Linked DNA regions of Homo sapiens: region 2 is reported to be linked to region 1. The links are microRNA targets in miRTarBase. Many come from high-throughput screens and were not tested one by one. Region 1 holds a microRNA gene; the other region holds the end of a gene's coding sequence.

Region 1 (16,560 bases):
CCCAGCTAATCGGGAGGCGGAGGCAGGAGAATCACCTGAACCTGGGAGGTGGAGGTTGCAGTGAGCCAATAGCGTGCATTGCACTCCAGCCTGGGCGACAAGAGCAAAACTCCATCTCAAAAATAAAATAAAATAAAATAAAATAAATAAAATAAAATAAAATAAAATAAAATATAAAAAATTAGCTGGGCACAGTGGTGCATACCTGTAGTCCCAGTTACTCTGGAGGCTGAGGCAGGAGAATCGCTTGAACCGGGGAGGCAGAGGTTGCACTGAGCTGAGATCGCACTAACCATTGCACTCCAGCCTGGGTGACAGAGTGAGTCTCTGAAAAAAAAAAAGAAAGAAAGAAAGAAAAAAAGAAGAAAGAAAGAAAGAAAGAAGAAAAGAAAGGAAAGAAAGAAGAAAGAAAGAAAGAAAAGAAAAGAAGGAAGGAAGCAAAGAAAGAAAGAAGAAAGAAAGAAGAAAAGAAAGGAAAGAAAGAAAAGAAAGAAGGAAAGGAAGGAAGGAAAGAAAAGAAAGAAGGAAAAGAAGGAAGGAAAGAAAGAAGAAAGGAAGGAAAGAAAGAAGAAAGGGAAAGAAAGAAGAGAAAGAAAAAAACAAAGAAAGAAGAAAAGAAGGAAGAAAAGAAAGAAAGAAAAGAAAAGGAAGGAAGCAAAGAAAGAAGAAAGAAAGGAAAGAAAGAAAGAAAGAAAAGAAGGAAGGAAGGAAAGAAAAAGAAGAAAGAAGAAAGAAGAGAAAGAAGAAAGAAAGGAAAGGACAAAAGAAGGAAGGAAAGAAAGAAAGAGAAAAAGAAAGAAAGAAAAAAAAGACTAACTCCAGGTTAGGCGCGGTGGCTCACACCTGTCATCCTGGCACTTTGGGAGGCCGAGGCGGGTGGTTCACGAGGTCAGGAGATCCAGACCATCCTGGCTAACATGGTGAACCCCACCTGTACTAAAAATACAAAAAAAATTAGCTGGGCGTGGTGGTGGGCGCCTGTAGTCCCACTACTCGGGAGGCTGAGGCAGGAGAATGGTGTGAACCCGGGAGGTGGAAGTTGCGGTGAGCCGAGATTGCACCACTGCACTCCAGCCTGGGCGACAGAGCGAGACTCCGTCTAAAAAAAAAAAAAAGACTAACTCCCCACCACTCTCCCCACCCTGGCGACCATCATCCTGTGGTGTGTCTCTGAGTCTGACGACACCAGGTCCCTCCCAAAAGTGGAATCAGGTACTTTCTGTCCTGGCTTCTTTCACTAATTATGATGTCCTCCAGGTTCATCCATGTGGTAGCCTGCGTAAGGATTCCCTTCCTTTTCATGGCTGAATAATATTCCATTGTGTGGATAAAGCAGATTGTGTTTATCTATGTATTCATCCATGGACACTTGGCCAGCTCTCACCTCTTGGGTGCTGTGAATTGCATCCCTTCAAGCTCCTGCTTTCAACTCCTTTGTGCCTATACCCAGCAGTGGAACTGCTGGACCCTATGGGAATTCTATGTTTAATGTTTTGAGGCAACCTCGATTTTAAGCTGAAAAAGGCAAACAAGGACAAAATGAAACTGTCACTCACTCCTGTCAGATCAGCAGATCACCCCGGTGACCACATCAAGTGCTGTTGAGGAGCTCTGCCCCCAATCTGGCAAGGGATTTGGCAAATTCTACTCGAGTTGAAATGCGAAGCTCTCACACATAGGCACCAAGAGGCGTGCACAGGAGCGTGAGACTGGGGACGTGTGCCATCGGTCACGTCCAGCCGGGTGGGGAGGCTCTGCACAATGTGCACGTAGAGAAACACAAGGAGGCTGGGAGCAGGGCCTCAGGCCTGTAATCCCAGCACTGTGGTAGGCCGAGGTGGGTGGGTCAGCTGAGTTCAGGGGTTCGAGACGAGCCTGGCCAACATGCTGAAACCTCATCTCTACTAAGGATACAAAAATTAGCCGGGCATGGTGGTGCACGCCTGTAATCCCAGCTACTCAGGAGGCAGAGGCAGGAGAATCACTTGAACCTGGGAGGAGGAGGTTGCGGTGAGCCGAGATTGTGCCGCTGCACTCCAGCCTGGGTGACAGAGCAAGACTCCATCTCAAAAACAAAACAAAACAAAACAAAACAACAACAACACAACAAAAAACCCACACACAAGGGCGAGGGCAGCCACACACTACTGTGCATGGGCCACATGCAGGAGAGGCATGGGAGGGGCACAGAATCTTCCAAAGAAACAGACCTGAGCTGGCCGAGATGGTGGCGGCACACACAAGCTAGCCCAGGCCCCAGTGGAGGTCAAGTGGGGCCGAGAAGAGGCAAGAGCAAAACCAGAAGTCAGCGGTTCCAAAGAGAAACAGACAGCAAAGATCAAAGTGAAAGGCCGGCAATGGAAGGAAAGGCTAGAAAAACAGAAACAAATCACCTATTGGGTATGAGGCTTACTATTTAATACCTGGGTGATGAAATAATCTGTACACAAAACCCACACAACATGCAATTTGTCTATGGAACCAACCTGCACATGTACCCCCGAAACTAAAATAAAATTTAAAATAATAATAAAATAGGGCAGGCGTGGTGGCTCATGCCTGTCATCCCAGCTACTCAGGAGGCTGAGGCAGGAGAATCGCTTGAACATGGGAGGCGGAGGTTGCAGTGAGCTGAGACTGCGCCATTGCACTCCAGCCTGGGCGACAGAGTGAGACTCAGTCTCAAAAAAAAAAAAAAAGAAAGAAAGAAAGAAAGAAAGAAAGAAAAGAAATAATAATAAAATAAAAACATGAAAGCTTTGAAGGACCTGGCGTGCCACCACAGCAATCAGGCTCCAGTGACCCTAGGAACAAGATGGCCACGCGCCGGGCCAAGGCAGTGCCCTCCAGTCACAGGGTCACTGAACAGAGAAGCAGCCCCCAGGACCAACGCAGAGAGGGTTCCATAAACCCGGGTCCCCAAAGATCCCCTTTGAATGGGAAGAAGCGCTCCCCAATCACATGATGACCCACTGGAGGATACGAACTGGCCAGTGGATATTTACCCGGTATTTCTATTCCCGGAGGCCTTCGGCGTGGGAGGGAAATGCCTCACCCACCTTCGTTCTCCCAGGCTGCAATGAGGCACCTTGCCCAAGCGTGCTGGCATTTCCCTCCCTCACCAAGTGCACTACTTCACTATAGTTACGTAAACCGTCATGTCAGCAATGTGACAGCCGCATTGTTTTCTTTATAAACATAATTTTTAACTATCTAATAATTTTATAATGAAAATGTTATAATAAAAACATCTGAAGCAGCTACAGGCGATGCTGAGATTTAACAAAGTTAGCTGAGGTACAGACAAGTGTTACCTAGACACTCAGAAAACTGCTTTAAGGAAGACCAACCCCGAAAGCTACGAAGAAAAAGACAGACATGCATGACCACATAAATCTTCAGAAGACAAACAATAGGCTGGGTGTAGTGGTTCACACCTGTAATCCCAACACTTTGGGATGCCAAGGTGGGAGGATTGCTTTAGCCCAGGAGTCCGAGGACAAAATGAGGAGGTTGGGTACAGTGGCTTATGCCTGTCATCCCAGCACTTTGAGGGCAAGGCAGGAGTGTGGTCCTGGGCAACACAGAGAGACCCCATCTCTAGAAAAAAAATGTAAGAATTAGGCTGGGCTCTGGCCAGGCGCGGTGGCTCATGCCTATAATCCCAGCACTTTGGGAGGCCGAGGCGGGTGGATCATGAGGTCAGTTCGAGACCAGCCTGGCCAGCATGGTGAAACCCCATCTCTACTAAAAATACAAAAAAATTAGCCGGGCTAATTTTAGCTGTAATCCCAGCTACTTGGGAAGCTGAGGCAGGAGAATTGCTTGAACCTGGGAGGCGGAAGTTGCAGTGAGCCAAGATCGCGCCATTGCACTCCAGCCTGGGCGACAGAGCGAGACTCCGTCTCAAAAAAAAAAAAAAAAAATTTGTAACTTAATAACAAATAATACATTTCATAGTAATTTTAAAAAAAAATTTTCTTTTTTTTTTTTTTTTTTTTAAGAATTAGCCAGGGAGGCTGGGTGCAGTGGCTCACACCTGTAATCCCAGCACTTTAGGAGGCCGAGGTGAGATCACCTGAGGTCGGGAGTTTAAGACCAGCCTGACCAACATGGAGAAACCCCGTATCTGCTACAAATACAGAAATTAGTCAGACATGGTGGCGCATGCCTGTTATCCCAGCTACTCGGGAGGCTGACACAGGAGAATCGCTTGAACCCAGGAGGCAGAGGTTGCAGTGAGCCAAGATTGCGCCATTGCGCTCCAGCCTGGGCAACAAGAGCAAAACTCCATCTCAAAAAAACAAAAACAAAAACAAAACAAAAGAATTAGCCAGGGATGGTGGCCTGCGCCCATAGTCCCAGTTACTTGGGAGGCTGAGGTGGGACGATCTCTTGAGCCTGGGAGTTGAAGGCTGCAGTGAACCATGATTGCGCCACTGCACTCCAGCCTGGGGGACACAGGGAGACCCTGTCTCAAAAATGCACACACACTACTTTTGGCGGGGGGTCGGTGAGAGAGGGGAAGGGGTCTGAGTTAGTCACAATGAAATCTCATGTCACCCTCATCAGATTGGCACACCATGAAAATGCACCCACCCTGACATTTGCTGGTGGGGGGCGGAGAAGCCTCTCACATTGCTGCTAGAGATGTGAATCAAGAACGTCACTGGGAAAAGCACTCCAGGGATTTGAAACTGAAGTTCCCTTCAGCCCTACAATCCCACTCCTGAGACCTAACTGGAGAAGGGCCTGCTCCGGGCCAGTGTGTGCAGTTTCTAGCAGACCTTGGCACGTCACCAAGCCAAAATGGGGCCCAGAAAAGCGAATGCATGATAGTGTGTGCCCTATGCTGTAATTTTTTTGTTTTTTTGAGATGGGGTCTTGCTCTGTCACCCAGGCTGGAGTGCAGTGATGCCATCTTATTACAACTGTGTCACTGCAGCCTGGATCTCCTGGGTTCAAGTGATCCTCCCCACCTCAGCCTCCTGAGTAGCTGAGACTACAAATACACACCATCAAGCCCAGCTAATTTTTTTTATTTTTGGTAGAGATGGGGTCTCCCTACGTTGTCCAGGGTGGTCTTAAACTCCTGAGGTCAAGCAATTCTTCCTTCTCAGCCTCCCAAAGTGCTGGGATTGCAGGCATCAGCCACTGCGCCTGGCCTAAAACTATTTTTGTTGTTGTTTTTGAGATGGAGTCTCACTCTGTTGCCCAGGCTGGGGTGCAATGGCACGATCTCAGCTCACTGCAACCTCCACCTCCCGGATTTAAGCGATTCTCCTGCCTCAGCCTCCCAAGTAGCTGGGATTACAGGCTCCCACCACCATGCCCAGCTAATTTTTGTATTTTTAGTAGAGATGGGGTTTTGTCATGTTCGCCAGGCTGGTCTTGAACTCATGACTTCAGGTGATCCACCCGCCTCAGCCTCCCAAAGTGCTGGGATTACAGGCGTGAGCCACTGCACCGGGCTTAAAACTATTTTTGTGTGTGTGTGTGTTTGTTTGTTTTTGAGACAGAGTTTCGCTCTTGTTGCCCAGGCTGGAGTGCAGTGGCGTGATCTCGGCTCACTGCAACCTCTGCCTCCCAGGTTCAAGCGATTCTCCTGCCTCAGCCTCCCGAGTAGCTGGGATTATAGGCACCCACCACCATGCCTGGTTAATTTTTTGTATTTTTAGTAGAGACAGGGTTTCACTATATTGGCCAGGCTGCTCTCGGACTCCTGACCTCAGATAATCCACCCGCCTTGGCCTCCCAAAGTGCTGGGATTACAGGCGTGAGCCAGAGCGCCAGGCCCTAAAACTATTTTATGTGGGGAGAAAATACCCAGGCCATGGCAGCAGAAAGCAAGGAAGAAGCCACGTGGAAGCCCTCCTGGCGCTTCTTCCAGGGAGGTGAGCAGAGAGCACCTGGGGCCAGGAGGCGGCATGCCTGGGTTTCTGCTCCTCCTCACTGTAACTTTCAGCCAAGTCAAACTGCTAGAGTTTCAGTTTCTTTATCTGTGAAATGCCGGGGCTGGCACAGATGGTTTCTAAGATCCCTCCCAGGCCTGGAACCTCTAAACCGTTAGGTCAAAGGTCGGGGAGAGGCCCCATCTGGCAACCATTGGCTCCCCAGCTGTGCTGGGGACGCAGTGGAGCAGCGAGACTGAGACCAAGACCAGTAACGGCAACGGCGGCCCTGACAGCCAATCCCCCTGGGCGAGGCCGAGCTCCTCCGTGGACTGCAGAGCTGGAGGGAGGCACAGCCGCCAGCCTCCTTCCTCCAGTGGCTCAGGGGTTGGTGGAATCCGCAAACCCCGGGCCAGGGCTGAGGCACTCTGAGGTCCCGGCCCCAGAAGGGGGGTTCGCCTGGGCAGGAAGGGATGCAGGAAGCTGTGTGACTAATGGCAACTGGCCATACTTGGAGAAACACTAATTTCAAAAAGGGCCTGGGGAGTGCAGGTTCCAGGCCGGGGCCTGCCTGGAGCCTTCTTTGCCACCTGCTCTGCCTTGCGCAGGTTCCGGGGCTTCTGGCTCTGCTTGTGTTGGCTCAGGACGTGGTTGTTGGATTTAGCAAATAACAATCAGAACACCCAGTGAAATCTGAATTTCAGGTAAACAATACTTTTTTAGTAGGAGAAATGTCTCATGCAACATTTGAGACACGCTTGTGCAAAACCATTGTTCATCGCCTGGCGTATAATCTGGCAACTCTGGCAGGAGAGGGAGGGAGCGGAGCCAGGCTTCCTGCAGTCCCTGCCCCTCTGGAGGTGTCCCCTCCACATAAGCCTCTCCTTTGGGTGGGGTCCACTCTTCCAGGTGTCCCACAAAACCGCCCTGAATCACCCCAATCTAGGCACACCACCTGTTTCCCGTGGGACCCCGCCTGACCCAGGAGGCTCGCAGGGCTGTTTATTACACAGGTATTGGTAGGAAGAAAAAGTAAAATCGTGATGAGTGCTTGTTGCTGCGAGGTGTGGCATGAAGTCCCAGCAGTCCTCTGTCAATGAGGGAAACAGCTACTCACAGAGAAATCACAAAAGGGGATCCCCCACTGCTGGATGAAGAGCCTGCCCCCACCCTGTCTCTGAGCCCGCATGGAAGCCCGCCTTCTTTTCGCCCTCCCTCCAGCCTCTGTGAAGTAAGGGTGGCCTCTCTGGTGATGTGTGCAGCCTCTTCCCTCTTCTAGGGCACATGGTGCTTTCGAGACGACCTCAAATGGAACCAGGCTGTTTCCCAAGCAGGTGCTGTCCTTGCTCTCCCCTGCCAACCACGTGCCCCACCCCCAGGCCCCAAGCCCTGGGTCGGGTCCTGCCATTTGCCCCAGGTCCTTACCTGGTGGCAATGTGCTCAGCCAGCCAGGACAGAACATCCAGCCCAGGTGCCCAGTTCCAGAAACATCTCAGTCATCACAGTCGTGGGCCGAATGCCAACCTCGAGGGCACTGAGCAGGTGCACATGGGTGGCCCATGCTGAGATGCCATTTGGCAGGGACAGGGCATCCTCTCTCCTCTGCCCTCACCTTTGGAGCTGGTCACTTCTCCATTTAATTTGTGGGCTTAAAGCAGACCCTCCTTAGTACTTAAGGCTCCAGGGACAAGACTATGGAGTCTGGGATGAAGAGCCCCTGAGTTAAATGACATTACCTGTCTTCAGGAGTCCCCTTTACAGGCCGGGCGCGGGAGCTCATGCCTGTAATCCCAGCACTGGGAGGCCGAAGCGGGCGGATCACCTGAGGTCAGGAGTTAGAGACTAGCCTGGCCAACATGATGAAACCCCGTCTCTACTAAAAATACAAAAATTAGCCGGGCGTGGTGGTGGGTGCCTGTAATCCCAGCTACTCAGGCAGCTGAGGCAGGAGAATCGCTTGAACCCGGGAGGCAGAGGTTGCAGTGAGCCAAGATCACACCATTGCACTCCAGCCTGGGCAACAGAGCAAGACTCTGTCTCGAAAAAAGGAAGTCCCCTTTACAGACCAGATGCCTTCAGATGAAAGGAGGTGAGGCAGGCCTCTAAGTAACATAGTGACCGGCAGGAAGGACTGTCCCGGGAGTAGAGAGGGTGGCACGGAGTCCTCAGTGCCTCTCTGGCTGCGGCTAAGAATGACCCAGCATCCTGACCACAAACTAGAGAGTCTGGGCCTTGGGCTCGAGGGCTCAAAAACTGTTGCCTGCATGAGAAGCACGTGCCGCCTCCAGCACAGTGCCTGACGATACTGTCAGCAGACTGGTTCGCAAGGACCTGGGTGACGGGCAGGTGGGGACTGCTCAGACTGTAGCCACTAAGGGCATCTAAGCCACACCCTGGCTCTGAGGGGAGACCCACAAAGCAACTTTCTGTTGAGAGTTCAACTTTTGACATTTGTGTGTTTCCTCATCTGGATGCACACTGCCTGGTTCCACAGACGATCTGAGGTGATGTGGCTCTCACGTGACCTGCCTACAGTTAACAGTCACAGATGTCATGGGGATAATTGAGTGATTTCCCCATCAGTCTGCTGGGCACGTATTTAGTGTGACTCAGTCTCCCTGAATCCAGCCGCCTCTAAGGACACTCACTGGTACCCCACTGACTGGCCTGCCTCACTGCTGCCAGTCCACACCCAGAGCTGACACCCCAAAGATACTCCAGACGATCGCTCTCTGTCCAACCATGAGCATGAGGGGCTTCTTGGTGTCATTTCCACTCCCCTTGCCAATATTTATTTGGAAACATTTCAAACTACAGAAAAGTTATGCAAATTACATCAGGAACACACACATCCCCTGTGCGGAGATCTGTGCTTTATGTCTTTGAAAGTAAGTTGTCGAGATCACAGCACTCCACCCCTCCACACCGAAGCCCGCAGCTTCTCAGGAAAGGGCAGTCTTGTGTGATCAGTGCATATCATCACACACAGGATGTCTGACACTGGCACCACGCTGCCATCTCAGAGTCCATTTCAATGCTGGGGGTCATCGGTTTTCAGCAGGTTCTTCCCTGGGTTCAACGCGTCTTCCCGCCAGAGGGATGGAATCTTGGGTGAGTGTTGAAATGCGTCAGAAACAAAAACGCAAAGTGGAACTGGAGCACGTCACAGACCTTGGACCAGAAGTGGCCTGTGAGGCACTGGAAGAGACGCCACCGTGCGAGCTGATGGTCACACAGCTTGAGGACCACAAAGCCCAGGCAAGAGAGCACCCCCAAAGCTAAGTAGGTAGCCGAGGTGGTGCTGCCATAGTGCCTGTGGGTGCGCAGCGCCTGCCCCACAGCGGCCACCACGTGAGCACCCAGTGCGACCTCGAAGCCCTGGGGATGCAGCAGAGCGAGGCCATAACTGGCCAGGGAGACGCACTCAAGAGAGAGGAACAGCCAGGGCCGCCAGCCGCGGTCTAGGTAGAGGCACCAGGCCACGGGCCATGCAAAGATGGGCAGTGTGAGCCACTGGTCCAGCACCGCGGCACGGCGCCACTGCGTCCACAGGCGCAGCCACTGCACGGGGCCATAGAGCAGGGCCATGGCTGCGAACACGTCCTTCAGGTAGCGGGGACCCAGCCCCATCGCGCCGCCCCTGTGCAGCCACGACAGCCCCAGCAGCGTGTAGGCCATGTTCACGAGTGAGTTGAACGGCATGGCCAGGAAGGCAGGGAGGCCGGCCACGGGCGCCTCGGCGTAGTGCTCATAGCCCACTTGCACGGAAACACTGTCGAAAATGCCCGTGAACACAGCCACGGCACAGAGGCCACCGGCCACGGCCACGTGCACGAAGGCCTGCCCCCACTCTGGATTCATCTGGAACCGGCGGCGTGACCTGGGGCAGGGAGCTTCAGAGAGCAGCCTTCAATACGCAGCCTCTGCAGAACACTCTGGGCCTCCCGGCTGAGCCAGCAGAAAGAAGCCCCGTGATTTCGTGATTTCCGAGGCAGATGCTGCGACCTTGCCCCGAAGGAAGGCAGGAGTCCTGCTGATTGGCTGGCGCCAGCGGAGGAACGTTCTGCCTTTTTCCTTTGTGGTTACAAAAGGAGTGTGGTTAGAAAACAAACCGTCCCCAGCACCGCCTCCATGTTCCTGACCCCCGGCCTCAGGAGCTACCAACCATCTTCACTGGAGAAGCAAATCAGAGTGAAACCGCTGCACACTGACTCTCTCAAGCCTCTAGAATCCTCTATCACCCCTTTCTCCTGGCACCTAGGAAAATCCTGCCCATCGTCCTAGTTTCCTTAAAGCCACTGCATCTACAGACAAGACCTGTCTAGCTCTGTCATTACAACTCAGAATGCGCCTTCCCATGTCAGTGTGTTATAAAAGTGGACGTCTCCAGCCCCAAAGCCCTTTTCACCAAATACCCAGCTGAACTAGAGACCATTAGATGGAGTCCGAGCTCTGGCCTCTGACACAAGGTGGGGGATGGAGGAGGAGGAGGATTCACCGTCTGCCACTCAAGCACCAGGCCGGGAGGCAAGGGGGTGACCCGCAGGCTTCCCAGGCCAGCTTCCCTGGCTCACTCGCCTGCCCTCTCCTGAAGTGCCAAGCCCCAAATCACCTTCTTTCCTCAGGCCACCATAAAGCCTTCTGTCTCCTTCAGTCACAGAACCAGAGAGACAATTTAATTACCACTGACTGTCAACTGCTTTGGGGCCACTGGTGCTGTAAGTGAGCCCTAGTAGCTGAGAAATACATTAATATGGAAGGGAGAAGAGCTTTAATGCTCTGAAAATGACTCCAATCATTAAAGCTCTTCTCCCTTCCATATTAATAAATTTCGCACTCAAGAGGGTGGGCGGGTAGGCGGGCTCAGGGAGAGAGAAGGGTGGGCTCCAGTTCCTGGTCAGCTGATGCCAGACTGTTCAAACCTTGGCTCTCCCACTTACTAACCATGTGATCTTGCACCTTAACTGTCTTGGGCCTCGGTTTGTGCACCTTTTTTTTTTTTTTTGAGACGGAGTCTCACTCTGTTGCCCAGGCTAGAGTGCAGTGGCACAATCTTGGCTCACTGCAACCTCCGCCTCCCAGGTTCAGGTGATTCTCCTGCCTCAGCCTCCCTAGTAGCGGTGATTAGAGGCGTGTACCACCATGCCCGGCTAACTTTTCTATTTTTAGTAGAGTTGGGGTTTCACCACGTTGGCCAGGCTGGTCTTGAACTCCTGACCTCAAGTGATCCACCCGCCTCAGCCTCCCAAAGTGCTGGGATTCACAGGTATGAGCCACTGTGCCCAGCCCGGTTAGCTCACCTTTGACCTAATCGCTTAGAAGTTCCAGGCCTGGGAGGGATCTTAGAAACCATCTGTGCCAGCCCCGGCATTTCACAGATAAAGAAACTGAAACTCTAGCAGTTTGACTTGGCTGAAAGTTACAGTGAGGAGGAGCAGAAACCCAGGCATGCCGCCTCCTGGCCCCAGGTGCTCTCTGCTCACCTCCCTGGAAGAAGCGCCAGGAGGGCTTCCACGTGGCTTCTTCCTTGCTTTCTGCTGCCATGGCCTGGGTATTTTTATTTAGACACGGGGGTCTTGCTCTGTTGCCCAGGCTGGGGTGCAGTGGCACAATCACAGCTCACTGCAGCCTCCACCTCCTGGGCCCAAGCTATCCTCCTGCCTCAGCCTCCCAAGTAGTTGGGACCAGGGATATACCACCACCTTGCCCTGCTAATTTTTTTTTTTTTTTTTGAGACGGAGTCTTGCTCTGTTGCCCAGGCTGGAGTGCAGTGGTGCGATCTTGGCTCACTGCAAGCTCCATCTCCCGGGTTCACGCCATTCTCCTACCTCAGCCTCCCTACCACAGCGCCCGGCCTGCCCTGCTAATTTTTGTTAAAAAAATTTTGGGCCAGGCATGGTGGCTCATGCCTGTAATCCCAGCACTTTGGGAGGCCAAGGCGGGTGGATCACGAGGTCAGGAGATCGAGAGCATCCTGGCTAACACGGTGAAACCCCGTCTCTACTAAAACAATACAAAAAATAGCCAGGCGTGGTGGTGGGCGCCTGTTGTCCCAGCTACTCGGGAGGCTGAGGCAGGAGAATGGCGTGAACCCTGGAGGCGGAGCTTGCAGTGAGCTGAGATCGCGCCACTGCACTCCAACCTGGGCGACAGAGCGCGACTCCATCTAAAAAAAAAAAAAAAAAAAAATTGTAGAGACAGGGTCTCACCATGTTGCCCAGCCTGGTCTCGAACTCTTGGCCTCAAGTGATCCTCCTGCCTTGGCCTCCCAAAGTCCTGAGATTACAGGAGTGAGCCACTGCACCCAGCTAAACCCCTCTTAAGTTGAAAGTCCAGTTCCTATATTTTCGACTTATGATGGGTTTATCTGGACATTACCCTGTTATACATCAAAAAGCATATGTAGCTGGGCATGGTGGCTCACATCTGTAATCCCAGCAATTTGGAAGGCCAAGGTGAGAGGACTGCTTGAGTCCAGGAGTTTGAGACCAGCCTGGGCAACAAAGTGAGACCCTGTCTCTACACAAAATACATAAAATTAAATTTAAAAAATAAAATAAAAATTAGCCAGGCATGGTGGTGCACCTATAGTCCCAGCTCCTCAGGAGGCTGAGGCAGGAAGATCACTTGAGCCCAGGAGATGGAGGCTGCAGTGAGCTATGGGCCACAGAGCAAGACCCTATCTCTAAAAAAAAAAAAGCTAGGCGCAGTGGCTCACACCTATAATCCTAGCACTTTGGGAGGCCGAGGCAGGTGGATCATCTGAGGTCAGGAGTTTGAGACCAGCCTAGCCAATGTGGTGAAACCCCGTCTCTACCAAAAATACAAAAAAATTAGGCCGGGCACGGTGGCTCACGCCTATAATCCCAACACTTTGGGAGGCAGAGGCGGGTGGATCACTTGAGGTCAGGAGTTCCAGACCAGTCTGGCCAACATGGTGAAACCCTGTCTCTACAAAAATACAAAAAAATTAACCAGGCGTGGTGGCGCACGCCTGTAATCCCAGCTACTTGGGAGGCTGAGACGGGAGAATTGCTTGAACCCAGGAGGCAGAGGTTGCAGTGAGCCAAGATCGTGCCATTGCACTCCAGCCTGGGCGGCAGAGTGAGACTTCATCTCAGAAAAACAAAACAAAACAAAACAAAACAAAACAAAACAAAACAAAACAAAAAATTAGCCAGGTGTGGTGGCACATGCCTATAATCCCAGCTACTCGGGAGGCTGAGGCAGGAGAATCGCTTGAGCCCGGGAGGCGGAGGTTGCAGTGAGCCGAGATCACGCCACTGCACTCCAGCCTGGGCAACAAGAGCGAAACTCCCTCTCCCCCCCAAAAAAAAAAAAAAAAAAAAAAAAAGTGGCCAGGCGTGGTGGCTCACGTCTGTAATCCCAGCACTCTGGGTGGCTGAGGTGGGTGGATCAGTTGAGGTCAAGAGTTCAAGACCACCCTGGCCAATATGGTGAAACCCCATCTCTACTAAAATACAAAAATTAGCCAGGCGTGATGGCTCATGCCTGTAGTTCCAGCTACTTGGGAGGCTGAGGCAGGAGAATCGCTCAAACCTGGGAGGCGGAGGTTGCAGTGAGCCAAGATCGTGCCACTGCACTCCAGCCTGGGCGACAGAATGAGACTCCGTCTCAAAAAAAAAAAAAGTATCTGTATATGCAGACCACTTAGCACTATTTTATTATTACTTCATTTTATTTTGTTTTTTTGAGACAGACTCTTGCTCTGTCGCCCAGGCTGGAGTGCAGTGGCGTGGTCTCGGCTCAGTACAACCTCTCCCTCCGGGGTTTGAGTGATTCTCCTGCCTCAGCCTCCTGAGTAGCTGGGATTACAACTAAAATTAGCCCGGCTAATTTTTGTATTTTTAGTAGAGACGGGGTTTCACCATCTTGGTCAGGCTGGTCTTCAACTCCTGACCTCGTGATCTACCTGCTTCGGCCTCCCAAAGTGCTGGGATTACAGGCATGAGCCACCGTGCCTGGCCTATTTTATTTTTTTATTGAGACGGAATCTTGCACTGTCTGCACTGTTGTCCAGGCTGGAGTGGTGTGATCTTGCCTCACTGCAACCTCTGCCTCCCGTTTTCAAGAGATTCTCCTGCCTCAGCCTCCTGAGTAGCTGGGATTACAGGCGCCCGCCACCATGCACAGCTAATTTTTTGTATTTTTTTTAGTAGAGACAGGGTTTCACCATGTTGGCCAGGCTGGTCTCCAACTCCTGACCTCAAGTGATCCGCCCGCCTCGGCCTCCCAAAGTGCTGGGATGACAGGCGTGAGCCACCACACCTGGCCTATTTTATTTATTTTTTGGGACAGAGTCTCGCTCTGTGGGGCAGGCTGGGGTACAGTGGCAGGATCTCGGCTCACTGCAACCTCCGCCTCCCGGGTTCAAGCGATTCTCCTGCCTCAGCCTCCCGAGTAGCTGGAAGTACAGGCGGGCCATCACGCCCGGCTAATTTTTGTATTTTAGTAGAGATGGGATTTTGCCATATCGGCTGGGGTGGTATTGAACTCCTGACCTCAACTGATCTGTCCCCCTCAGCCTCCCAAAGTGCCGGGATTACAGGCGTGAACCACTGTGCCCAGCCTATTTTATTATTTTTAATAGCATATAGAGTGACATTTTGATACATGTATATAATGTATAATGATCAAACAAGGTAATTAGCATATCCATCACCTGGAACATTTATCATTTCTTTGTGTTGGGAACATTCCAAATCCTTTCTTATAGTCTTTTGAAAATACACAAGAAATTGTAGTTAACAGTGCTCACCCTACAGTGCAGAACAGCAGGATCCATTCATGCTATGAAGCTGGCATTTTGTATTTGTTATCCGACTCCTCCGAATCTTTCCCTACTCTCTAATCTTTCCAGCTTCTAATACCCACTATGCTTCTATTTCCATGAGCTTGATTTTTTAAATATTTTACATAAGAATTAACACATACAATATTTATCTTTCTGTTCCTGGCTTATTTCACTTAACATAACGTCCTCTAGGCTCATCCATGTTGCCACAAATAACAAGATTTATCTTATTAGTTTGTTTATTTCTTTGAGACAGGGTCTCGTTCTGTCTCCCAGGCTGAGTGCAGTGGTGTGATTGCAGCTCACTGCAGCCTCCACCTCCCAGGCTCAAGTGGTCCTCTCACTTCAGCCTCCCAGGTAAATGGGACCACAGGCATGTTACCATGCCTGGCAAATTTTTAAATTTTTTTTGAAAGACAGGGTCTTGCTATGTTGCCCAGACTGGTCTCAAACTCCTAGGCTCAAGCGACCCTCTCACCTTGGCCTCCCAAAGTGCTGGGATTACAGGCGTGAGTTACTGCACCCAGCCAATAGTTTTTTATTTTTTTTATTTTTTATAGTTGGTTTTGGTTTTTTTTGAGACAGGGTCTCGCTCTGTCACCCAGGCTGGAGTGCAGTGGCACAATCTCGGCTCACCACAGCCTGCGTCTCCCAGGTTCAAGCAATTCTCCTGCCTCAGCCTCCCAAGTAGCTGGGATTATAGGCGCCTGCCACCACACCTGGCTAATTCTTGTATTTTTGGTAGAGATGGGGTTTCGCCATGTTGGCCAGGCTGGTCTCGAACTCCTGATCTCAGGTGATCTGGCCGTCTTGGCCTCCCAAAGTACTGGGATTACAGGCTTGAAACACCGCGCCCGCCAACAGTTTATTTTTAAATGGCTCAATAATATTCCATCATGTATCTATACCACATTTTCTTTACATATCAATCCACTGGTGGACACTTAGATTGCTTCCATATCTTAGCTATTATAAGTAGTACAAAGGCACGAAGAACCTACATTGGGGAAAGGATGGTCTCTTCAATAAATGGCACTGGGAAAATTGGATAAGTATGTGAAGAAGAATGAAAACTAGGCCCCTATCTCTCACCACACACAGTAATCAACTCAACATGGATTAAAGACTTAAAAGTAAGACCTGAAACTATAAAGCTACTAGAAGAGGCCAGCGCGGTGGCTCACACCTGTAATCCCAGCACACTGGGAGGTTGAGGCGGGCAGATCACTTAAGGTCAGGAGTTCTAGACCAGCCTGGCCAACACAGTGCAACCCCGTCTCTACTAAAAATACAAAAAGTAGCCGGGCGTGGTGGCGCACATCTGTAATCCCAGTTACTCAGGGGGCTGGGGCAGGAGAAATGCTTGAACCCAAGAGGAGGAGGTTGCAGTGAGCCAAGATCACACCACTGCACTCCAGCCTGGGGCGACAGAGCAAGACTCTGTCTTTAAAAAAAAAAAAAAAAAAAAAAAAAAAAAAAGGCTGGGTGTGGTGGCTCACACCTGTAATCCCAGCACACTGGGAGGCTGAGGCGGGCAGATCACCTGAGGTCAGGAGTTCCAGCCCAGCCTGTCCAACATGGTGAAACCCCATCTCTACTAAAAGTATAAAAATTAGCCAGGGTGGTGGCATGCGCCTGTAATCCCAGCTACTTGTGAGGGTGTGGCAGGAGAATCGCTTGATCCCAGGAGGCTAAGGTTGCAGTGAGCCAAGATTGTGCCACTGCACTCCAGCCTGGGTTTCAGAGTGAGACTGTGTCTCAAAAAATAAATAAATAAATAAATACAAATAATAAAATAAATAAAATAAAACTACTAGAAGAAAATGGGGAAATGCTCCAGGAAAGATTTTATGG
Region 2 (7,530 bases), not on the chromosome of region 1:
GCTGTAGCCGTTGAAAACGGAACTGGCACCGACAGACAGGTTCGTTGTTCTTCCTTCGGAGGTGGCACCTTTGTTCTTAGCTGAGGATAGACTGGTCTGAAAGCAGACGGGGCTGCGGCCCAGGAGGCTGCTGCCGTCAGAGCTGCTGAGAAGGTTCTGCCTCCCTCAGAGCATCTGCCTCCAGGGCTGGCATGGCTGAGGGCACGTGTGCCTGTGCAAGCCTCGAGCTTTTCCCGGTAGCCCCCACGTTGGCCCCCACAGTGTCCCCTCCCTCCCCAGATCCTGTTTCTGGACCTTGGCACTGGAGCCGTCCTGTGTAGCCTAGCCCTCCCGAGCCTCCCTGGGGGTCCACTGTCCGCCAGCCTGCCGACCGCAGACCACCGCTCAGCCTTCTTCTTCTGGGGCCTCCACGAGCTGGGGAGCACCAGCGAGACGGTACGGGAGCCACCCTCGGAGCAGCCATGCTGGGAGCCGGGGCCAGAGACCCAGGCTGGAGCTCCACCGTGGAGTGCCCAGAAGCTCATCGGTGCCTGGGCAACCTCACATAAGTTGAAGTCCAGTGACAGTCAGGATGAGGTGGTGCAAGCTGAGGCAAAGTGACCTTAGAGGGGTCCAGCGAGAAGGGGCTGATGGCCTTCGGTGGATAGGGGCGCACACAGCCATGCCCTGAAGGGAGTGGCTGCCGGCAAGGACCAGTGTCAGGACCAGGTGGGGTGGGAGGACCTGGGAGGTGGCCACAGAACTGGGGGCTGGCATTTGGGGGACCCAGATAGGGCCCCTAGCAGACATAGAGCTCCAGGCACGGTCACTCTGACAGCAGTGTCCTGTGGGAGTGCTCAGTGAAGGGCGTGGGGCCCATTGCTGGTTCTCGCTCCAGGAGACCGGGGAGGCCCGGCACAGCCTGTACATGTTCCACCCCACCCTGCCGCGCGTGCTGCTGGAGCTGGCCAATGTCTCTACCCACATTGTCGCCTTTGACGGTGAGTGTGGCCTCGGCCAGGGACCCGGGTGTTCCGCGGGGTCTGCCCTGGCTGGTCCTGAGCCGCCCTGACAGCTGTGTCCCCCACCCTGCAGCCGTCCTGTTTGAGCCAAGCCGCCACGCCGCCTACATCCTTCTGACAGGCCCGGCAGACTCAGAGGCACCCGGCCTGGTCTCTGTGATCAAGCACAAGGTGCGGGACCTTGTCCCAAGCAGCAGGGTGGTCCGCCTGGGTGAGGGTGGGCCAGACAGTGACCAAGCCATCAGGGACCGGTTCTCCCGGCTGCGGTACCAGAGTGAGGCGTAGAGGCACGCCAGCCAGAGCCTGTGGAGAGACTCCGCCTGCTGACACTAAACGTCCTGGGAAGTGGGCCCTTCCCTGGGTCTCTGCACTGACTCCCCCACTCCTGACCCTGGTGATGGTCGCCACTGGGCAGCAGCAGCCTTACCAGTCCTCCATGATCACACCCAGGGACCTGCATGGGTGAGGGGACACCCTGGGCCTCTCTCCCGCCCAGCATCCTCCCTGAGTCCCCACACAGGGCCTCACTCTGCACCCCACCAGGGTCCCGCTCACACCAGGCAGCCTTCATAGTGGTCTCCCTGGCCACCTTGGGCAGAGCTGGGTCATGCAGCACCCCATCCTTACCCGGTGCCCTCTCCTTGCCAGCTTCTCCCCAGGCCAGAGCGGCCATCGCGTAGAAAGAACCAGGGTGTCCCCGGGACAGGCCGTCCCCCACCCCATCCTGTAGAAGTCCATTCCCCTTTTCCCTCCTGTGCTCTGTCCCCCAAGGAGTCATGGAACTCAGGGTACTGGGCCTCAACGGGAACCTGAGACAGCTCCAGCTTCGCAGCCCTTCCCGGAGCTACAGGGGGATCCTCTAGCATGGGGGGTGTGACTTGGTTCCTTTGACCAGGTCCTGTGAGGAAGCCTGGAGCAAGGGTCTCCCCCAGCAGGATGGGTGGGGCCTGCTCTGGAGCTGAGCCCGTGGCCGCTCACAGGTGTCCTTAGTGGTGTTGCAGCTGTCTACTGGCTGCATGTGCTGTGAATATCCCAAGGAACTGGCTGTGGAATGCGTGTTTGGGTCAGTCTGTGCCCTCTCAGTAGACACTGGAGCTGCTCTGTCCCTGAAGAGGCCCCGTGCCCCAGGCATGGCAAGCGCCTGCCTCTCCCCTTCCGGTGCTCACACGCCCACGCCGTGCCACCCGATGCAGGACTCACCTCTGTGCCTTGCTGCTCCTGAGGCCCAAGGGCAGCCATGGTGCTCTGTACTGCTCGGGCCGCCCAGGTCACAGAGCCTGAGCTTCGTAGCCAAAGCAGCCTGATGACCCACCCACCAAGGAAGAAAGCAGAATAAACATTTTTGCACTGCCTGAAAAACCCCGGTGGTCAGGCGTGAGCCTAGCGTGTGTGCGTCTGCCTGTCTGTCTGCTCCCTAAGTAGTCAAATGGATTTGTTCCTGGAGGAGTGACCAGGAATTTGCTGGCCAGCCTGGGTCAGGGTGGGGAGGGCTGCCGAGGAGGCGAGCACCCCCACCCAGACCTGCTCAGTCAGAAACTGGGCACCCAGCAATCTTGACATCCTCTGGGGGTCTCCGGTTTGAGGACCCCTGCCCACCAAGCTGGGCACCCTGGCCCCATGCAAGCGGGTGTGCTCCCACCTGGAACAGACGGTGGCCTCGGCACCGCGTGACGTCTGAGGGCTGGCTGGAGTCCAGCGTGAAGGGATGATGGTAGGGCCGGGGTGAGCTCTGGTGACCCTGCAGGCAAGAGGAGCCCAGGCAGGGGCTTCCCGGAGATGCAGCTTTGGGTGTGGCGGCAGTGAGGGGCAGGCAGGTGCTTTAGAGAGCCCTGCAGGACTGTCCCACGGCCATGTATGCAAGTGTGAAAAGCCCCGCTTCAGAGCCACACAGGTGTAACCTTGTTCCCATTGCTCCTTCCAAGGCGTGGTAGGGGGACGTGGGGGATGAGGTTGAACAGGTGGGTGCCCTCGTGCCAGGAAGCGGTTCTCTTGTCCCTGAGAAAAGTAACTCAGCCCAGAAGGCCTTGGGTATGAAAGGGCCATATAGGGCTCTGCGGACGCGTCCTATAAGTGAGAACCGCCAGGCGGGCAGGGTGGGGCTGGAGGGAGAAGGGAAGGTTCACTGGGGTTGCAAGAGCTGCCCCCTGACAGCACGGGAGGGAGGGCAGGGGGTCCCCAAAGGGAGGGGTCACCCTGCAGGTCAGAGGAGCAGCTGTGCCCCTGGCCATGGAGGGGTGGGCAGGGCCATGAGCCCCACCCTGAGAAGCCGGAGTTGAGGGGCTGGGCCAAGGGGTGCCATTGCTGGTGGGCAGAAGTTTCCCTCCCTGCAGGAACAGCCTGCACCCCCAGACTGTGAAGAAGGGATTCTTGCCCTGTGGTCACTGCGGGCCCTAGAGAGTCTGGGCCATGCCATGCCATGCCCTCTGCAGCTCTGTGGCCTTAGGGCAGGCTGGGGACAACTGCCCCTCCCCAGAGGCTTCCTTAACAGTTTCCTCACTGTTCCCCCTCTGGAGGGCAGGCGTCCCCACACACTACCCTGCTCACCCTAGCCCACCAGAGCACAGTGCCCTGGCTGTCTCCTCCCAAAGACCAGATGCCCCAAGTCTGCTGCCTGGGTCTGAGAGGGTCAAGTCCCTCCTCCACCATCGACTCCACACACCTGGGACCTGCCCCCTCCCTCACCACACACTGCACACATCACATGCACAATACATTCACACATATGTACTATACATGTGCACACCTCATACATGCAATGTGCACCACACATGCATCCTACACGACACGTGCACACACACCACACATGCATGCCTCACAGTACACCTGCACACGTGCACTACACACAATCACACGTGCTATGCGTACACACCACACGTGTGCCTCAGTGCTACACATGCCTCATACGACACGTGCACACACATATGCATGCCTCACAGTACACCTGCACACGTGCACTACACACAATCACACGTGCTATGCGTACACACCACACGTGTGCCTCAGTGCTACACATGCCTCATACACACAACACGTGCACACACCACACATGCCTCACAGTACACCACACGTGCACTACACACAATCACACATGCTATGCGTACACACCACACGTGTGCCTCAGTGCTACACATGCATCCTACACGACACATGCACATACCACACATGCATGCCTCACAGTACACCTGCACACGTGCACTACACACAATCACACATGCTATGCGTACACACCACACGTGTGCCTCAGTGCTACACATGCCTCATACACACGCACACACACCACATATGCATGCCTCACAGTACACCTGCACACGGGTGCTACACACAATCACACATGCTATGCGTACACACACTTGTGCCTCAGTGCTACACATGCCTCATACACACGACACGTGCACACACACACCACATATGCATGCCTCAGTACACCTGCACACGTGCACTACACACAATCACACACGCTATACATACACACCACACGTGTGCCTCAGTGCTACACATGCCTCATACGCACACACACCCATGCATGTGTCACATGCACCGTCACACCATAAGCTGCACCCACAGCAGGATGGGCTCAGAGCCAGGGCCCAAGGGTCTTTTATTTGTGTGCTGGACGCTGTTGGGAGTGACTGGATGTGAGCCAGCCCTATGGGTGGGGATGGCACCGCCCTACCGCCGAGAGAGTTGAAGCTGCACCCCCGAAAGGAGCCAGCTGTACCTTCACCCAGTCTGGGGGACTGGTGAGGCACTTGGGGGATGGGGAGCAAGGCCAGCTCACGAAGGAAGACTTGGGCAGGGAGGATCAGGGACGCCTGGCAAGGATCCACCCTATGGAATCGGGCCTCGTCAGTGGGGTGACAATGTCAGAGTTGTCTATAAATCGGGGGGGAGGCCGCGGCCTCGAGGTGGGAAAGCAGGTGCCGGCGCACCTGTGGACAAATTCTGGAACGCGTTTGGCGAGGGAGGAATAGGCGCAGCTCCGGAAGGCAGTGACCTCGAGGCAGCCTCAGCACGGCACTCTCTTGGGTCCTCTTCCAGGCTCACACTGGGCGACAGCGGAGAGGCTCTTGGACGGGGCAGAGCTCGCGCCGAGACCTGCATGTCCGCGTCTTGTGACGGGTGTGTGGGAAGCCGCCCGCCTGTGCATCTTGCTTCCGGGTATTCGCTGGCTGATTTACTGGTTTTAGAGATGGGGATGGGCACCCAGTGCTGGACTGAAGACCAGAGAAGGTGGAGCTCCCTGTGGCCTTGGTCTCACCTCTCTTCAGGTAACAGGCTCTGCCCTGACCCAAGCTGAGCCAATGAACCCCCTCCCTGGGAATCCACACCTGGACCCATTCCTTCTGGGCAGGGAGGGCTTGCTGGAGGGAGGGAGGCTGTGCACCCCACAGAAGACTGGGCCCCCTGGGCACAAGGGGACACTGGTGCTGGGTTCAGCAGCCCCCAGGACCTGGGCCAAGACGGGGGTGGCTGCTGCATTCACGCAGGACGTTGAGCTGCAGGGACTAGAGTGGCAGATGGGCCAGGTCCACTAGGCCACCCCATCTCCACCCCCAGGGCCACAAGCCGCTGTGGGCTCCACAGGGGTGGGAAGGAGTGCAGGGCTGGGGCTCGAGTGCCGTGGCCTCCACGTAAACGGGAACACGCTGTGGGCGAGAAGGCGGCTGAGAACAGGCTGGCCAGCTGGTGTCCTGCCCACCTCACTGCAGGGCCCCAGCAGCCCCCAGGCCACAGCCGCCGGCCACAGGGCACTGCCTGGGCTCACCGTCTCTTCATCTCCAGCGGGATCCCAGCCTCTGCCAGGAGGGCCTTGTACATGTCAGACTTCAGGAACCTTGGGTAGGAGTCCTACAAGAGACAGCGTCCAGCCCCTGACCCTTCTGCCTCCTCACCTCTCAGCCAGCTCCACCCGAAGGAGCAGCCAAACATTGCTGGAGCCTCCTCCAGCCACAGAGTCTCCGGCGGACAGGGTGCTGGAGGCAGCCGCCTCGGACCTGCCCAGACCAAGGCAGACGCAGGGAGACCTGGGCTCCCGTCTGCCTGGGCCATGTCGCAGCAAAAAATGGCAAGAGCCCTGGTGGCCACGTGTAGAGGAATAAACCGCGGCACCTCCTCAGCCATTAGCGGGAACCAGGAATGGCTCCGTGTGCCCCACAGAGTGAGGGCAGGGTTGTGGAGTCAAATAAAAAAACAAGGTAGGCCACGCATGGTGGCTCACGCCTGTGATCCCGGCCGGGCAGAGTGGCTCACGCCTGTAATCCCAGCACTTTGGGAGGCTGATGCGGGTGGATCATGAGGTTGGGAGATCGAGACCGTCCTGGGTAACACGGTGAAACCCCGTCTCTACTAAAAATACAAAAAATTAGCCGGGCGTGGTGGCGGGCGCCTGTAGTCCCAGCTACTCAGGAGGCTGAGGCAGGAGGATGGCGTGAACCCGGGAGGTGGAGCTTGCACTGAGCCGAGATCCCGCCACTGCACTCCAGCCTGGGCGACAGAGCGAGACTCGCCTCAAAACAAAAGAAAACAAAACTTTTTAGATCGAAGCTTGACCCTTATTAAGCATGTGATCTGGGCCAGTCCTTCAGCCTGTCTGAACCCGGAGTGGGCTCAGGACGGAACACTGACAGGAGAGCGGCCAGGGCGGCCCCAACCAGGTGGGGAAGGTGCTCCCCAGGGGCAGAGTCAACGTGGGCAGTGCCTGTGCGGACAGAGCCCTTGAGGGTGGGGACATGGAGGCCCGTCTGGGATGACCCCTCCTGCCCCTGCAGGCTGGCCCAGCACCCACCTTCTTCATGAGCATGTATATGTGCAGCTGGGCGTCATCCAGGACATAGCGGTGGGGCTGGCGCAGCCCCTCCAGGGTCTGCTCCATGGTCCGGCTGTCGATGTTGACCCAGTGGGCAGCTCCGGGGGCCAGGAACTGCCTAGGGGTGGGGACAGCACTGGGTAGTCTCGGCTGGGTGCACCTGCCCGTTGGCCAACCGGTGCCCACCACGCAGCACTTACTCGTACACGGCATCCACCAGGGTGGGGACCTGGGCCTGCGCTCCATATCGAAGCTCCTCACATGCCTCCCAGAAGCTGAGGTTTTCTCCTGGGGGGCCGGGCACCCAGTCAAGGATCCCATCGAGAGTGGCAGCCAGGGCCGGTGGGGGGTTCCCAGGGAGCTGGTGGAAACCGAGGCGGGAGGGGTCCCAGGCAGCAGCCTCCCCGCTGGGACTGGAGCAGGGGCTGGGGGGTTCTCACCACTGAACTCCTTTCCCAGAAAGTCCATGAAGTGGGCCCGCCCCACGGGGTCCTCCAGGAGCTCCCGGAAGCTGAAGCCCCATCTCTCCACACGGAGCTTCGTGGGGGCAGCCACCCTGGGGAGAGGGCAGGGCTGTTGGGGAGGGTGGGGACTGACCCTCCTGCGTCCCCCCAGGCTGGGAGCACACCCGCAGTCCCGCTGCCCCGCCTGGGCTCACGTGGGGGCATTCATGACCCAGTAGGCGTCATTGTCTGAGATCCAGGGATTGCTGGGCAGGCACCC

What was found. The annotated mature microRNA hsa-miR-3202 reads UGGAAGGGAGAAGAGCUUUAAU and lies in region 1 at 10,689-10,710, opposite strand. An mRNA with a match to its seed (bases 2 to 7 or 8) in the 3' UTR can be bound and repressed. Matches are read on the target gene's strand: a 7mer-m8 pairs with bases 2 to 8, a 7mer-A1 pairs with bases 2 to 7 and ends in A, and an 8mer does both.
Region 2: the mRNA of FAM234A is a reported target of hsa-miR-3202. Seed matches in the 3' UTR shown: 7mer-m8 at 1,352-1,358, 7mer-m8 at 1,834-1,840 and 7mer-m8 at 2,152-2,158.

Annotation. Positions count from the first base shown.
Region 1 is chrX:153,975,255-153,991,814 of GRCh38, reverse strand. It overlaps MIR3202-1 (microRNA 3202-1), which reads right to left and starts at 10,718; the gene lies at 10,638-10,718. TMEM187 (transmembrane protein 187) reads right to left here. Exons shown (of 2, transcript NM_003492.3): 2 at 8,621-9,965. The coding sequence starts at 9,752. The coding sequence ends at 8,967. It overlaps MIR3202-2 (microRNA 3202-2), which reads left to right and starts at 10,639; the gene lies at 10,639-10,717. RefSeq lists enhancers at 5,873-6,002, 6,173-6,532, 7,375-7,424, 11,232-11,341 and a cis regulatory region at 5,798-6,523.
Region 2 is chr16:263,737-271,266 of GRCh38, forward strand. It overlaps FAM234A (family with sequence similarity 234 member A), which reads left to right. Exons shown (of 13, transcript NM_032039.4): 10 at 1-39; 11 at 280-435; 12 at 878-980; 13 at 1,075-2,360. The coding sequence ends at 1,286. RGS11 (regulator of G protein signaling 11) reads right to left here. Exons shown (of 17, transcript NM_183337.3): 12 at 7,466-7,530; 13 at 7,248-7,363; 14 at 7,008-7,095; 15 at 6,787-6,925; 16 at 5,767-5,849; 17 at 4,571-5,647. The coding sequence ends at 5,533. Among named protein-coding and RNA genes, the nearest start is that of RGS11, 8.4 kb to the right of the region's middle.